3 linked regions of the Homo sapiens genome follow. The protein of the gene in region 2 interacts with the protein of the main gene of each other region in a pairwise test. Each region holds a gene or a part of one and is shown on either strand. Other genes may lie near its edges.

Region 1 (4,116 bases), on a different chromosome or scaffold from region 2:
AGAGAAAGGAACGGCTCTGGGAAAGCCAAACCTGGCCAAAGTCCAACTTCCTGAAAAGAAAGCAGCCAAGAGGAGAAAGCCGTACAATCCAAAGGTCCCCCCATCTGCATGAACGGTTTGATCAGCAACCAATTAATCTCTCACTGCAGCAAGAAAAGAATTGCCAAAGATAACTGAATCGCATGCACACAAAACCTTACCAAAGGCTCAGGGTCAACTCTGATAAGGCCCTTTCTTCTAGAGTTGGTGGGAAGAAACTCTGCTGGATCTACTCACCTGCAGATCTTCCAGAACATCTATCTGTAACTGATCAGAGTGATGTCTCCTTGGAAGGGCCTCTGACCACCACTGCACTGAGAACACGGCGGGAGTGAGAACACCTGCGCACCCAGGATTTCACACTTAGCCACTAGATTGCTTCACAGCTAATCAGGGAAATGCCAGTGTTCCCCAGGTGAAAATGTTTTGGTGCCTAATGACTTGTGGAGCACTTCAAAAACTGAGATTAGGCCGGGTGCGGTGGCTCAAGCCTGTAATCCCAGCACTTTGGGAGGCTGAGGCAGGCGGATCACGAGGTTAGGAGATCGAGACCATCCTGCCTAACATGGGGAAACCCCGTCTCTACTAAAAAAAATATAAAAAATTAGCCGAGCGTGGTGGCACACACCTGTAATCCCAGCTACTCGGGAGGCTGAGGCAGGAGAATTGCTTGAACCAAGGAGGCGGAGGTTGCAGTGAGCTGAGGTCGTGCCACTGCACTCCAGCCTGGGTGACAGAGCGAGACTCTGTCTCAAAAAAACAAAAAACAAACGAAAAAACACTGAAATTAAAAAGACTCAAGAAGCAACAAGAGAAATTCTGGCACACGTGCCCAAGAGAGGTTTAGTAAGACAAGATTTAAATAAGTCATAGTGTCCTTTGGATTCCTAACAGATGTGACCAAGCTCCATCTTGAAGATAGCGTACAGTACTTCTAAAAAGCTCAACAGCCTTCCAGGATTGGAGAAGTCCCATAACCTGAACTACAGACCAAACAGCTAAGCCGCAACACGATATGTGATGGTGCAGAGCTGTTCTGGCCTGAAAAGAACTTTCCACTTGCTGAGCACAGTGGGAAACCAGAATTCTCGAGACTAGAACTGGATACACCAGATGATGCCCAAGGTGTTTTCATGACAAGTACCCACACGAGATCTCTTCAAACAAACCCCCCAGAGGATGGACGGGAACCAGGGCTCCTAAAGGCGACTAAGAGGAAAGACCAGAGGTGACCGGACCAGATCCCTGTGATTCTGGGACAGAAGAGATGTAAACCGCAAACACGCGCCCTTCCCCACACACTTTGGTTTCTTTGTGGCAGCAACACTTTTTTATTGTTCTCTCTCATCACAAGTTTTAGGAAAGCAGAAGTTTTGCCTGTCTTGTTCATCGCTGTATCTCCGGCACCCTATATCCTGCCTAGCTCAATACACTAAGTGCTCAAATAAAATACATTGAATAAATGATTTTGAGAAATCTGCGTGGTTAGAAACTAGTATGATAAGCAGAAAAGGCATCGGAAACAGTTGTCTCTAGGCAAGTGGGGCTAAAACAGGGAGATGACACAAAATTGGGTCACTAGAAATCACCTGGGTACTCCCAAAGAGAAAACCTGTGCTGAGAACGAGCTGGGCTGGGGGCACTCCCTGTGGCAGGCCTGTTAAATCACTCGTGGCACCTTCTCCACCTTCTGATCCTCTCTTGGGTTACTGCCAAAGCCCACAGGTAAAGCACCTTGCAGCCGTATGGGGAGCTCTGTCTCAGGCCACCTGGCATGCGGCATGGGAGCAGCAGGAAATGCGGTCTGGCCACGTTTCTGAACAACGCACAGCCTTGCTTAGAAGACGCCAAGGACACCGACCAAGGGCCAAGGTTCCAAGGCCTAAGTGAGGTAATCGATGAGATTTAAGGATGTAGGATCACGTTAATAGTAGGGAAAAAAGTCACTTTAGCTATGATGAAAGGAAGGGAACTGAATTCTACAAAGGCAGAATGAGAGCTTTTGATGAGTAACCATGATACAAATACACAAACAGAAAACATCTTACAACATGAAGAAACAGTGATTTCTCTGTGAGTAAAATTCAACAATCCCATTCTTAATACTGAATGGAATCTCTGAGTTCACCAGGCCTGAGCTGCAATGATCCCCCAACTGGCTGGAGAAAGTACATGGACAACATCTCCTTACACGGTAGGCTGATTGCATTTTAACCTCTAAGGCTCTCGGGAGAGAAAAGACAAAGTTTTGACTGAAACTAAAGCTAAAAATTATGTTAAGTTTAGAAAAAAAAATATGGTACAAACAATTTAGAGACTATTTCTTTGATACTGTTCAATACATTTACATAGTGTTGCTATAATGTTTTACTCTTCAGCATTAGAGAATGTTCTATACATGAACACTCTTGAGGGGATGGTGATTTTTGGTACCACAAAAAATAGAAGATGTATTCTATCTTGCATTTATTCTTCACAAGAAAGCTTCAAGTTTAGCTTACTTATGCTGACATAGCATTCTACAGTATAATCAAAATATAGTTATTAAAATTTGCCAAGAAAAACAAAAAAGCTGGCCCATGAAGCACACGGTGACCCTGGCCTTGGCCACCCACCCTGGCCCTGACTCACCACGAGCCTCTTGTTCCACCGGCCTTGGGGACGAAGGAGTTTGACTGCCTACTCGCTGGCCCAGGGCTTTCTCCTGGTGACCAGGAGGGTCCCATTCGGCGGCCTCCCTCTGGTCCTGAAGGCTGGCCCCTGTCTGGGTCTTCGCTGCTCTCCTTGAAGGCCAGGGAACTCTTTACCTCTTGCCCCAGGCGCTCCTGAGCACCACCCCGAGATGGCCCGGGACACACCCACCAAAGGCCACTGTTCTGGCCACTGGCACTGGGCCACGGCTGCCTCCAGAACAGAGCAGCCTCTTCATTTCTGAGACCTGCAGACACAACCCCACCTGCCAGCATGCATAGCTGACCAGTCCCTAATGCCACACCTCATGCTCATGGCTCCTGCTGCCTCTGCAGAAACACTAGTTAACAGTGACCTGGGCTACTCTGGGCACATCTGTGATCAATGAGAAATCTCACACTGCAGGACGACACCCTCTGAACTCCGTCCTCCCCCTCCTCAGCATCCCCCACCTCTCAATTCCGGTCTCCAGTGAAGGCTGTACTTGGTGCATCTCAGCCTAGCTGTCCCAGCACGCAAGCAAAATGTACGATTCCCTCCTCTCCCTTCCTGAAAGGCCTGTAGACTGACATTAAGCAGGAATTTAAAAAGTCTGAAGCAAGTTTATCCAGTAGATGGCTGGGGGTGCTACTCGCGCTGTCTCTGAGGCCCTCCTTTGCAGACATCATGACCGTAAGGCTTTTGGGGCCAGCATCTTCCCAGTTCCCTGTAGGTCACGAGGGGCCACTTCTCCCACTTCCTGGGGTCAGCACTGTCCTCTGTGGGCTGCAGAGCAGGCAGCTCAAGGCACTTGGTTTGGGAAGCCTGGTCTCCCTGCAAAGCCGGGAGGCATCAAGCTCTAATTGTGGTGACCAGGCCCTCAGTCACAGCTGGGGCCACCAGAACAGAGGGGCCGCCCTCGCTCAGAGGGCGTCTGGAGTCACTGGGGGCTGGGGCTCTGGGGGCTCGTGGAAGTAGTAGGGCTGGAAGAGTCTCTCGTGGCTGCACAGCTCCATGGCCCGGTAGGTGTGTGCGAGGAGGTGGGGGAAGCGAGATGTGAAGTAGCACACGAAGTCGTCGGGGAGGGACCCCAGCGTCTCCCGCACCTCTGCAGGCAGCTCCCGGTAGTGGTGCTTCTGCAAAGAGTTAGAAAGCTCGGGAGATTAGAAAGGGGTTAGAAAGCTCGGGAAATGTTGGCAAAACACCCTTTCATCATGCAAGGAAGAGACAGAATGTGAGTGTTGGTTTTTGGTAAAGAAAAAGAAAAAAGGCTTATGTATCCAAGAATCCAGCCCCGTCATCTCGCCTGCTACCCTCACTCAGGAGGAGGCCTTGAAGTGAGCAAGGCCCAGCCAGTCCAGGGGGTGCTCAGGCCTTCTGTGACAGTCAGGACCTGGAGACACTCCT
Region 2 (5,365 bases):
GCAGATCACTTGAAGTCAGAAGTTGGAGACCAGCCTAGCCAACATGGCTAAACCCCGTCTCTACTAAAAATACAAAAATTAGCTGGGCATGGTGGCGGGCACCTGTAACTGCAGCTACTTGGGAGAATCACTTGAACCCGGGAGGCAGAGGTTACAGTGAGCCTAGATCACACCACTGCACTCCAGCCTGGGTGACAGAGTGAAACTCCATCTGGAAAAAAAAAAAAAGAATCACTACTATAGTAAACCACCATAGTAAAAGTATCTTATCCCTCAAGTGTAATGAGACATAAACAAGCTAATTGGGTTATAGGAATGCTCAAGCCTCTTTCAGAAAAAGATTCTACATTATGTAATATAATCACAGCATTAGTGGGTTTAAGATATTCTTTAAAATAGAATCACAGTCAGGACCAACAGGAGTAGTTTTTTAAATTTTTTTTGGAGACAGAATCTTGCTCTGTCACCCAGGCTGCAGTACAGTGGCACAATCTCCGCTCACTACAACCTCCGCCTCCCAGACTAAAGGAATACTCCCACCTCGGCCTCCCGAGTAGCCGAGACACAAGCACACACCACGTCTGGCTAATTTTTGTATTTTTAGTAGGGACGGCGTTTCACCATGTTGGCCAGGCTGGTCTCGAATTCTTGACCTCAAGTGATCCGCCCGCCTCGGCCTCCCAAAGTGCTGGGATTACAGGCATGAGACACTGAGCCCGGCCATTTTTTTTTTTTTAAACTTTGAAACTTTTTGGCTGGGCACAGTGGCTCACACCTGTAATTGCTGCACTTTGGGAGGCCGAGGCAGGCAGATCACAAGGTCAAGAGATCAAGACCATCCTGACCAACATGGTGAAACCACGTTTCTACTAAAAATGCAAAAATTAGCTGGGCGTCGTGGCGCGCACCTGTAGTCCCAGCTACTCGGGAGGCTGAGGCAGAAGAATCGCTTGAACCCAGGAGGCGCAGATTGCACTGAGCTAAGATCGTGCCACTGCATTCCAGCTTGGCGACAGAGTGAGACTCCATCTCAAAAAAAAAATTTTTTTTAAATCATAGTATCAGTATGCTGAGTATTTTTTAAATCAAAGGAGATGGAGGTGGACATTTTCCATTATTTCATTTTAATTGACTTTAATTTACCATGCACTATAAAACTATAAAATACCATGAAAAGATGTTTTAATATTATAAAATAGGACTCAAAATTAATATTTTATAGGTTCCTTATCTTCAATTCCAAAAATCCAAAAAACTTCTGAAACCCAAAATAACTCATCTTGTGGTAAACCTTACCCAAACTGATATGAAGCTATTTACAGTCTTTATCCTATTTAGTGCGAACATTCATACATTTTGTTGCAGAAACAGTAACACTTTTGAAGGGGGATATTGCACTGGACTCTATTGGAAGGCTACACATTACTACCTTGCCCATATAAAAAAAAAATTCCTAATTCCATAACCTATTAGACCCTAAGAGTTTGAATGGTGGACTGTGATCCTATAATTGCTAACATTTATTGAGCTATTAACTGTTATGTTTCAGGTACTGTTCTGTTCACTTTATATGAAATAACATTTAATCTTTCCAATCATCATGAGCTAAGTATTATAATAATCCACATTTTACAAAGAAGGAAACTGAGCCACGGAGAGATTAAGTAAACTGCCTAAAATCACACAGCTAGAGTATGACTAACTGGGATGACACTGGGATGAATATTTAAAATATTACACATAAGAGTAACAACACACAACAAAATAATTGATTATGGTAGGGTGGTAGGAGTGATATGTTTCTCTACTCAATTGATATTACTTCTAGAATAAGGAATCAAACAAAAAATTACAAAACACTACATGCATTTACAAATTCTCATGTACAATTTCTACAAACTTGCTTAAAATGCAGAGTATAAAACCCAAATTTCTCAGCTTATGCTAACACATTTAATTTTTTATTGAAAAGTTACATCTTAATATCTTAATTACAACATGATAGATAATTTATATTCATTGTAGAAGTTAGAAAATTTGGATAAGCAAAAAGAAAACAATCACCTGTAAAACTACACTCAGAAATAACCATTTAACAATTTGGCACATATCCTTCCAGACATAATATATTTTTGGGTTTTTTTACCAAAATGGAATCATGTTTTTAAATTTATTTTTTCTCACTTACATATACCAAGACATCCTTTCATGTCTTTATATTATTCTATCATCATTTTCATGGCTGAGAAGGCAGTACCCCACTGTAGGGATGGACCCTAACAATCACTGTGAAACATTTAGGTTGTTTACAATTTTACCATATAATGATCAATAGTACTGGCTCTAGAGTCACACTGGTTGGATTCAAGTCCTGGCCCTAACACTTAACTAACTCAGGTACCTTGAGCAAGCAACCTCATTTCTCTATGCCTGTTTTTTCTTCTGAAAAGCAGAAATAGTACTACCCACTTCATATGATTACCGTGGGGCTTAAAGGCATTAATACACAGCTTTTATAATCAACAATACTGCATCTAGTATGCTCACAATTAAATATTCACACACATCTTTACTACATCAAAAAAAAAATTCTTTAAAGGGAATTTCCATGTCAGAAGGTATGCCAATTTTTAAAGCTGCTGAATCTACCAAATTACAGTGTGGTTTAAAGCCCTTCATTAAATAGCCTTCTCACTTAATACTCATTTCTCTTTATCCAGGAAGGCAAAAACTATTATCAAGTTAACCAGTTTGTTTCACTCAATTAGCTTTTTGTTCTTCCACCTGTAAACCTCGGCATATTTAATAAAACCTCAAAGTTTATAGGTAACTTGAAGACACCTAGCTCAAATTCTCCTTCAGTACGATTCCTCTACTCTAGAATCCCCAATTTGTCAGTGAACAGGAACAGCCTACCACCCAAAACAACTCATTCTATTTTCACAATTTTGAGGAAATTTATCTTGAAAGAGAATTGAAATCTGCTTCTTTTAAACTTCCACCCACTGACCCTAGTTCCTTCTGGTCAAGTCAAATCTGATCCTTCTGCATGACAGAACTCCAAATCCTTAAAAGTGGCTGTTACTTCTTAAAAGAAGCTCCTCTTCTTTAGGTCAAACATCCCATTTTTTCAACTTTTTCTCATTTCCATTTCTCTCATGATCAAGGTCCTCGTTTATGCTCTACAGATAAGTGATTTTGACACTTAGGTGTCTACCACCTTGGAAATGAGAAAAATTAAGGTCCGTTCCTACCCTACTTAAGTTTGGGCCTCTGTGTGGCTTTTTATTAGCTCTCCAGATGATTCTGATAAAGTCTGAGAATGAATACAAGGTCTCACTTATGATAGTATGCTACCCAAAAAGCCAACACAATACCCCAAATATAATATAACTAGTACACAGTAAAGTGGGGCTAACACCTTGCTCTGTCAATAAGCTGTTCTACCAACTTCAGAATTATTCACAGATGGGTGTGTTGGCTGACGCCTATAATCCCAACACTTGGGAGGCCAAGGTGGGAGGATCACTTGAGTCCAGAAGTTTGAGACCAGCCTGGGCAACACAGTGAGATCTCGTCTCTACAAAAAATTAAAAAATTAGCCAGACATGTTGGCAGGTACCTGTAGTCCCAACTACTCAGGAGGCTGAGGCAGAGGCAGGATCGCTCGAGCCTGAAAGGTGGAGCTTGCAGTGAAGTATAATCGCACCACTGCACTAAGCCTGGGTAACAGAGAAAGCAAGACCCTGTCAAAGAAAGAAGAGGTGCAAAGGGGAAAACAGGGAGGGAAGGAGAGAGAGGGAGAGGGACAGAGGGAGAAGGAGAGAGGAAAGAGGGAGGGAGGGAGGGAGGGAGGGAGGGAGACAGAAAGGTGCACTAGCCCACCAACTGAACTGACAGCTGATTGCACCAAAGCATCTTCTTTGTATAGAGCACTGTGATGTCAACACTGAGAAAAAACACAGGCCCTAATACTGATCTCATCTAGTGCTAGATTTACCTTCTAGAAAGCATGATGGAACAAACATCTTCAGAAAACTATAATACTAATTGTAGCTATCCCAATGTAGGCACATCAGAGCTATAGAAACATTGTGATTACTAGCTGGAAACCATACTAGTTGTTGGGGAGGAGAGGGGAGCAGAGGGATGACACTAAGGAAACTAAGTTGCTCTCAACTTCAAGATTTTGTGTGGGTTTGTTTTTCAACGTTTGCAAAGTCAGAAGAGATGGAGGCCATCAGTGAGTTCATCTGAACTCAGGCTACTTGCAAACAGAGACTGGGTAACTGCCTCGTGCACCCTCAAAAATAAATTCATGATGCAAAACTTCATGTAATTTCTGAATTTCTGAATTCCTCATGACGTGCACTTTACCTGTTACCTGTTAATATTTCTGGTACTGAGGGGCAAAAGAAAAAAGTAAAAAAAAATTCATGGTACAGGAGATGTGGTCCATTACAATGACACAATGTTATGGGAAAAAACACACTAAAACCAAGCATACTTTTTTTTTTTTTTTTGAGACAGAGTTTCGCTCCTGTTGCCCAAGCTGGAATGCAATGGCGCTATCTTGGCTTATTGCAACCTTTGCCTCTCTGGCTCAAGCGATTCTCCTGCCTCAGCCTCCCGAGTAGCTGGGATTACAAGCGCGCACCACCACGCCCAGCTAATTTTTTGTATTTTTAGTAGAAATGGGGTTTCACCGCGTTAGCCAGGCTGGTCTCAAACTCTTGACCTCAGGTGATCGGCCCGCCTCCACCTCCCCAAGTGCTGGGACTGCAGGCGTGAGCCACTGTGCCTGGCCAAACCAAGTGAACTTAACCAAGATCCAATCTATTTTCGTTTGAACAGCAAACATTAAAAGTACACCTGGTATTTTCTAACAATTACACGAAGAATGACCAGATGCTTCCTGTTGATGGAACAGTAGAGAACTATAGACTGACAGATTCAGACTACAGTTCACAGAAACAACTGGAAACAAACTTAGCTTCCTTTCAAAGCCATTAAAATACGGCCTTAAATTTTTATGCATTAATCAATTAAGTATAATTGTCTCCCAATAAGTATAATTGTCTCCCAACCTAGAAAACCCAGAATGATTCAGAGAGACAAAGAACTCTAAGGATATGTCTCTGCAAACTGTTCGTTTCACCAAAGGATTCACTGCAGAATTAATTTTCTGTAAAATCTGTACCTCCTATAATTTTCAACATGTTCTATCTTTAAAGATAACATTTACACAAGTGTTGATAGCATATGTGGAATTCACGTGTTACTTGTGTAAATCATTATAAATATGTAATAGAATTAAATGTTTTAATCACTTAAGAATATCTTCGAATGTTCCTGAGTCTCCGAG
Region 3 (5,365 bases), on a different chromosome or scaffold from region 2:
GCTTCCACTTATTGAGGTTGTCTGGTGTGCCTGGCGGTGTTCTGGGGCACATTTTTGGAGTGAGCCTATGGGTATGGCAGTTCTGTGAGGTTAGATGGATAGTTGCTATGGATATGCACTTCTATGAGAGTGGGGACACTAGTTACTTCCTCTTTGAGATGAGGGAACCGAGGCTCAGGCCAGCGGTTGGCTAGCCAGCACCACATGAACCTCTCTCCAGGCCTCCTTACTTTCAGGAGGGCTGCCCCCCAGGGAATGGGCCTGCTGCAACCCCAGAGGGCAGGAATCAGCAGGAATGAGATGCTGGACTGGTGGTGGGTGGTGGTTTTTTTTTTTCACCAAGTGGCCCAGAAATTCCAGCCTGCTTCTGCCTAGTACCTAGAAATATCTATGGGTTGTTGGGCCAGTCTAGGTGCTGGTGACAGGCTTACTGACTGTCATAGCGCCACTCTCTACTTTACAGTGTCCTCTGAGCTCCTGTCCGTTGCAGCCCAGACACTCCTGAGCTCAGACACCAAGGCTCCGGGGAGCAGCTCCTGTGGGGCAGAACGGCTACACACAGTTGGGGGACCTGGCTCAGCCCGGCCCCGAGCTTTCTCCCACAGCGGGGTACACAGCCTGGACGGCGGAGAAGTAGACAGTCAGGCGCTACAGGAACTGACGCAGGTCTAGGGTGCAGGCCCCCTAGTGGGGGTGGGCAGGGAACCTGTCCAGGGCAGCAGCCCCGCTGAACCCTCTCTGCCACCTATCCTGCAGATGGTGTCTGGCCCTGCATCGTACTCTGGCCCAAAGCCTTCTACCCAGTATGGAGCTCCAGGACCCTTTGCAGCCCCTGGTGAGGGAGGTGCCTTGGCGGCCACTGGGCGGCCCCCGCTGCTGCCCACCCGAGCTTCTCGTTCTCAGCGTGCGGCCAGTGAGGACATGACGAGTGATGAGGAGCGCATGGTCATCTGTGAGGAGGAAGGGGATGATGATGTCATTGGTGAGCATTGCAGGGCCCAGAATCTTGCCCAGGACCCAGCAGGCCAAGGCTCAGAGGGTGGGCAGAACTTGGATCCAGGCCCCTAGGCCCCTTTGTTTTCTTTTCCACTTGGTTTATGGTTGCATGTGGCCAGTTCAGGCCCTGCCGAGTAAATCCAGCCCTGCCCTCAGGAAGCCCCCAGCCCTGCAGGAAATCTGGAGGACAGGGGGCATGACCAGATCTTCAGGTGCAGTGTTAGGGGCTCTGTCCTGCAGGCTCATAGGCTCCTGCACTGGGCAGTGGGCACTGGGCATGTGGGCACAGCCCTGGGCTGAGGAGTAGCCTTCCTGGACAGCACTCCCTGCCGGTTTGGAGCAGAGCTGAGATCCAGGCTCCAGACTGTTTCTCCTGGGTCCCCCTGCATCTAGCCCCCTCCCCATACTGTTCCCTCCACTCCCTCAGCTGACGATGGCTTCGGCACCACTGACATTGATCTCAAGTGCAAGGAGCGGGTGACCGACAGCGAGAGTGGGGACAGCTCTGGGGAGGACCCAGAGGGCAACAAGGTGAGGGCTTGGGTCACGGTGCTGTCCCATCACACTCCCTCCTAAGCCATGGGAATGTCTGTTTCTCCCGGGCTTGAGAGAGGGGGAGATTAAGGTCCAGAGAGGGCAAGCTGCTTGCCCCGTGGGGAGTTGGGTCATAGTCAGGATGAATTGAGGCCTTCAGCTGGCAGGGGTGCAGCCCTAGGCTGGCCTGGCTGACAGGCTGGATGGGCATGGCTAGGGGGCTGCTATCGAGGTGTCGGAGTGTCCTGACCTGGGGTGTCTCCCTTCCTTTCATGCAGGGCTTTGGTCGGAAGGTGTTTTCACCTGTGATCCGTTCCTCCTTTACCCACTGCCGCCCCCCACTGGACCCTGAGCCCCCAGGGCCCCCGGATCCTCCTGTAGCCTTTGGCAAAGGCTATGGTTCCGCCCCATCCTCCTCTGCGTCCTCGCCTGCTTCCTCCTCAGCCTCGGCAGCCACCTCCTTCTCACTGGGCTCAGGAACCTTCAAGGCCCAGGAGTCTGGTCAGGGCAGCACAGCGGGCCCCCTACGGCCCCCACCCCCTGGGGCTGGGGGTCCAGCGACACCTTCCAAGGCAACCCGGTTCCTCCCAATGGATCCTGCCACCTTCCGGCGCAAGAGACCCGAAAGTGTGGGTGGCCTGGAGCCACCAGGCCCCTCAGTCATCGCGGCCCCTCCCAGCGGAGGAGGAAACATCCTGCAGACACTGGTGCTGCCCCCAAACAAGGAGGAGCAAGAGGGCGGCGGAGCCAGAGTGCCCTCCGCCCCCGCCCCATCACTGGCCTATGGGGCCCCAGCAGCTCCCCTGTCCCGTCCTGCCGCCACCATGGTCACCAATGTGGTGCGGCCTGTCAGCAGCACTCCTGTGCCCATCGCCTCTAAGCCCTTCCCCACCTCTGGCCGGGCTGAGGCGTCTCCAAATGACACAGCAGGTGCCAGGACTGAAATGGGCACTGGGTCTCGGGTGCCTGGGGGCTCCCCGCTGGGTGTCAGCTTAGTGTATTCGGACAAGAAGTCGGCAGCAGCCACCTCACCAGCCCCACACTTGGTGGCTGGACCCCTGCTGGGCACTGTGGGGAAGGCGCCTGCCACTGTCACTAACCTACTGGTGGGCACCCCGGGGTATGGGGCCCCTGCGCCCCCTGCTGTCCAGTTCATTGCCCAGGGGGCCCCTGGTGGTGGGACCACTGCGGGCTCAGGAGCAGGTGCTGGGAGTGGCCCCAATGGGCCAGTACCCCTGGGCATCCTGCAACCAGGTGCCCTGGGCAAGGCTGGGGGAATCACCCAGGTACAGTACATCCTGCCCACGCTGCCCCAGCAGCTTCAGGTGGCACCTGCCCCAGCACCAGCCCCTGGGACCAAGGCAGCGGCTCCCAGCGGCCCTGCACCCACCACCAGCATCCGTTTCACCCTCCCACCGGGCACTTCCACCAACGGCAAAGTCCTGGCTGCCACTGCACCCACTCCTGGCATCCCCATCCTGCAGTCTGTACCCTCCGCCCCACCCCCCAAAGGTGAGACCTGGGCCGGGCAGCACTAGGGGAGGGGCCATAGTCCTGTTTGGCTCCCTTGTAACCTTTTCCTTTCTTGCCTCTTAACTTCCAGCCCAGTCAGTTTCTCCCGTGCAGGCCCCGCCCCCGGGTGGCTCAGCCCAGCTGCTGCCTGGGAAGGTCCTAGTGCCTCTGGCCGCCCCTAGCATGTCAGTGCGGGGTGGAGGGGCCGGCCAGCCACTGCCACTGGTGAGCCCGCCCTTCTCAGTACCTGTGCAGAATGGTGCCCAGCCCCCCAGCAAGGTGAGGGCCTGCCTTTCTCTCTACCTGCTGGATGTTGGCCCCTGTACCCCATCATTTCTTTGTCTTTTTTTTCAGTCTTTTCTCCTTCTCCATGTATCTGGTTCTCTGTCTTGCCATCTTCCGTGATGTCTCTGTGCATCCTGACTCTCTCAAGTCCTCAGTGTCTGTACCCTCCTCCTTCTCTGTGTCCCCACCTCTCACTGTCATCTTGCCCATCCTGTTCTCACCCCAAGTTCTGTGTTCCTTGCTTTTGCTTAGAGTCCCACTTGAGGTCTTGGTCTTCCCCTGCCCCAGTCTGGGGCCACAGCTCACCCTGGCCTATGGGTGCCCTTCTCCACAGATCATCCAGCTGACCCCGGTGCCTGTGAGCACACCCAGCGGCCTGGTGCCGCCCCTGAGCCCAGCCACACTCCCTGGACCCACCTCTCAGCCTCAGAAGGTCCTGTTGCCCTCCTCCACCAGGTAATTGCAGCTGAGCCCATACTCAGAGGCCAGGGAAGGGGTGGGGCGGGGCCGGCTTACCTCACTCCTCCCCATTTCCTCTCCTGCGGCAGAATCACCTATGTGCAGTCAGCGGGCGGGCACGCGCTGCCCCTGGGTACCAGCCCTGCGTCCAGCCAGGCTGGAACAGTCACCTCGTACGGGCCCACGAGCTCTGTAGCTCTAGGCTTCACCTCGCTGGGGCCCAGCGGCCCCGCCTTCGTGCAGCCCCTGCTCTCAGGTGAGGGGCGGCCTGGCAGGCAGTGCTGGGGACCCAGGGTGGGGCTGAGGCAGTCCGGGCCCTAACTTGGTCTCCTGCTTCTTCTTCTCTGTCTTTCAGCAGGCCAAGCCCCACTGCTGGCTCCCGGTCAGGTGGGCGTGTCACCTGTGCCCAGTCCCCAGCTGCCGCCTGCCTGTGCAGCCCCCGGAGGTCCTGTCATAACAGCATTTTACTCTGGCAGCCCTGCACCCACCTCCTCAGCACCCCTGGCCCAGCCATCCCAGGCCCCCCCAAGCCTGGTCTACACTGTGGCCACCAGCACAACCCCACCTGCAGCCACCATTCTGCCCAAGGGCCCGCCAGCCCCTGCCACTGCCACCCCAGCCCCGACTAGCCCTTTCCCCAGCGCCACAGGTAGGTGTCAGATCAACCCAGAGCAGAGTGAGTTGGGGGACCCAGGGGATGGGCTCCAGTCAGGCCTGGCTCAGCAAACAATTTTCTCCCCACTAGCAGGTTCCATGACCTACAGCTTAGTGGCCCCCAAGGCCCAGCGGCCCAGCCCGAAGGCCCCCCAGAAAGTGAAGGCAGCCATCGCCAGCATTCCCGTGGGGTCCTTTGAGGCAGGTGCCTCTGGGCGGCCTGGCCCTGCACCCCGGCAGCCTCTGGAGCCTGGCCCAGTCCGAGAGCCAACTGCCCCAGAGTCTGAGCTTGAGGGGCAGCCCACACCACCAGCCCCTCCACCCCTGCCAGAGACCTGGACTCCCACGGCCCGGAGCAGCCCCCCACTGCCCCCACCTGCTGAGGAGCGGACCAGCGCCAAGGGCCCTGAGACCATGGTGAGCGCCTGCAGGCCGTGGGGCTCCCACTGCCACTTGGCTGTGCCTCTCCATTGACGTCTTTGCTTTTCTGTCCTACTCTTCTTTCCATGCCTGTGTGTCTCTCAGGTTAAAGGGTCCCCTCTGTCCCTTCTGCCTGCCTGTGTTGTCTCCTCTCCCATCTGAGGCCCCTGTCTTGGCCTTCCTGAGGCCGTGTGACAGCCTTCTCAAGGGGTCTGCTGGGCGGGCTCAGATCCAACTCTTTGTTTCTGGCCTTTGCCCCAGAGTCTGAGCTCAGTGTTCGCCATCTCCCTGCCCATCTCCACCCCAGGCCAGCAAATTCCCCAGCTCATCTTCAGACTGGCGCGTCCCTGGGCAGGGCCTGGAGAATCGTGGGGAGCCTCCCACTCCTCCCAGCCCGGCCCCAGCTCCAGCTGTAGCCCCTGGTGGCAGCAGCGAGAGCAGCAGTGGGCGGGCAGCCGGGGACACCCCGGAGCGCAAGGAGGCGGCTGGTACTGGCAAGAAGGTG

The links. Proteins that work in one complex are often made in the same cells at the same time.
Region 1: the proteins of GABPB1 (region 2) and ERN1 interact in binary tests that used the Homo sapiens proteins (3 or more experiments, as listed by UniProt).
Region 3: the proteins of GABPB1 (region 2) and CIC interact in a two-hybrid assay, tested with the Homo sapiens proteins (one large-scale study listed by BioGRID and IntAct).

The regions. Positions count from the first base shown.
Region 1 is NC_000017.11:64,040,356-64,044,471, forward strand, and holds part of ERN1 (serine/threonine-protein kinase/endoribonuclease IRE1 precursor), read right to left. Parts: intron 3,846-4,116; coding exon 3,633-3,845; 3' UTR 1-3,632. UniProt on the Homo sapiens protein: Serine/threonine-protein kinase and endoribonuclease that acts as a key sensor for the endoplasmic reticulum unfolded protein response (UPR).
Region 2 is NC_000015.10:50,347,829-50,353,193, forward strand, and holds part of GABPB1 (GA-binding protein subunit beta-1 isoform beta 2), read right to left. Parts: exon of another isoform or gene 1,108-5,365; intron 1-1,107.
Region 3 is NC_000019.10:42,288,425-42,293,789, forward strand, and holds part of CIC (protein capicua homolog), read left to right. Parts: intron 1-463; coding exon 464-666; intron 667-756; coding exon 757-982; intron 983-1,423; coding exon 1,424-1,527; intron 1,528-1,808; coding exon 1,809-3,042; intron 3,043-3,133; coding exon 3,134-3,321; intron 3,322-3,661; coding exon 3,662-3,783; intron 3,784-3,875; coding exon 3,876-4,042; intron 4,043-4,141; coding exon 4,142-4,435; intron 4,436-4,531; coding exon 4,532-4,857; intron 4,858-5,167; coding exon 5,168-5,365. UniProt on the Homo sapiens protein: Transcriptional repressor which plays a role in development of the central nervous system (CNS). In concert with ATXN1 and ATXN1L, involved in brain development.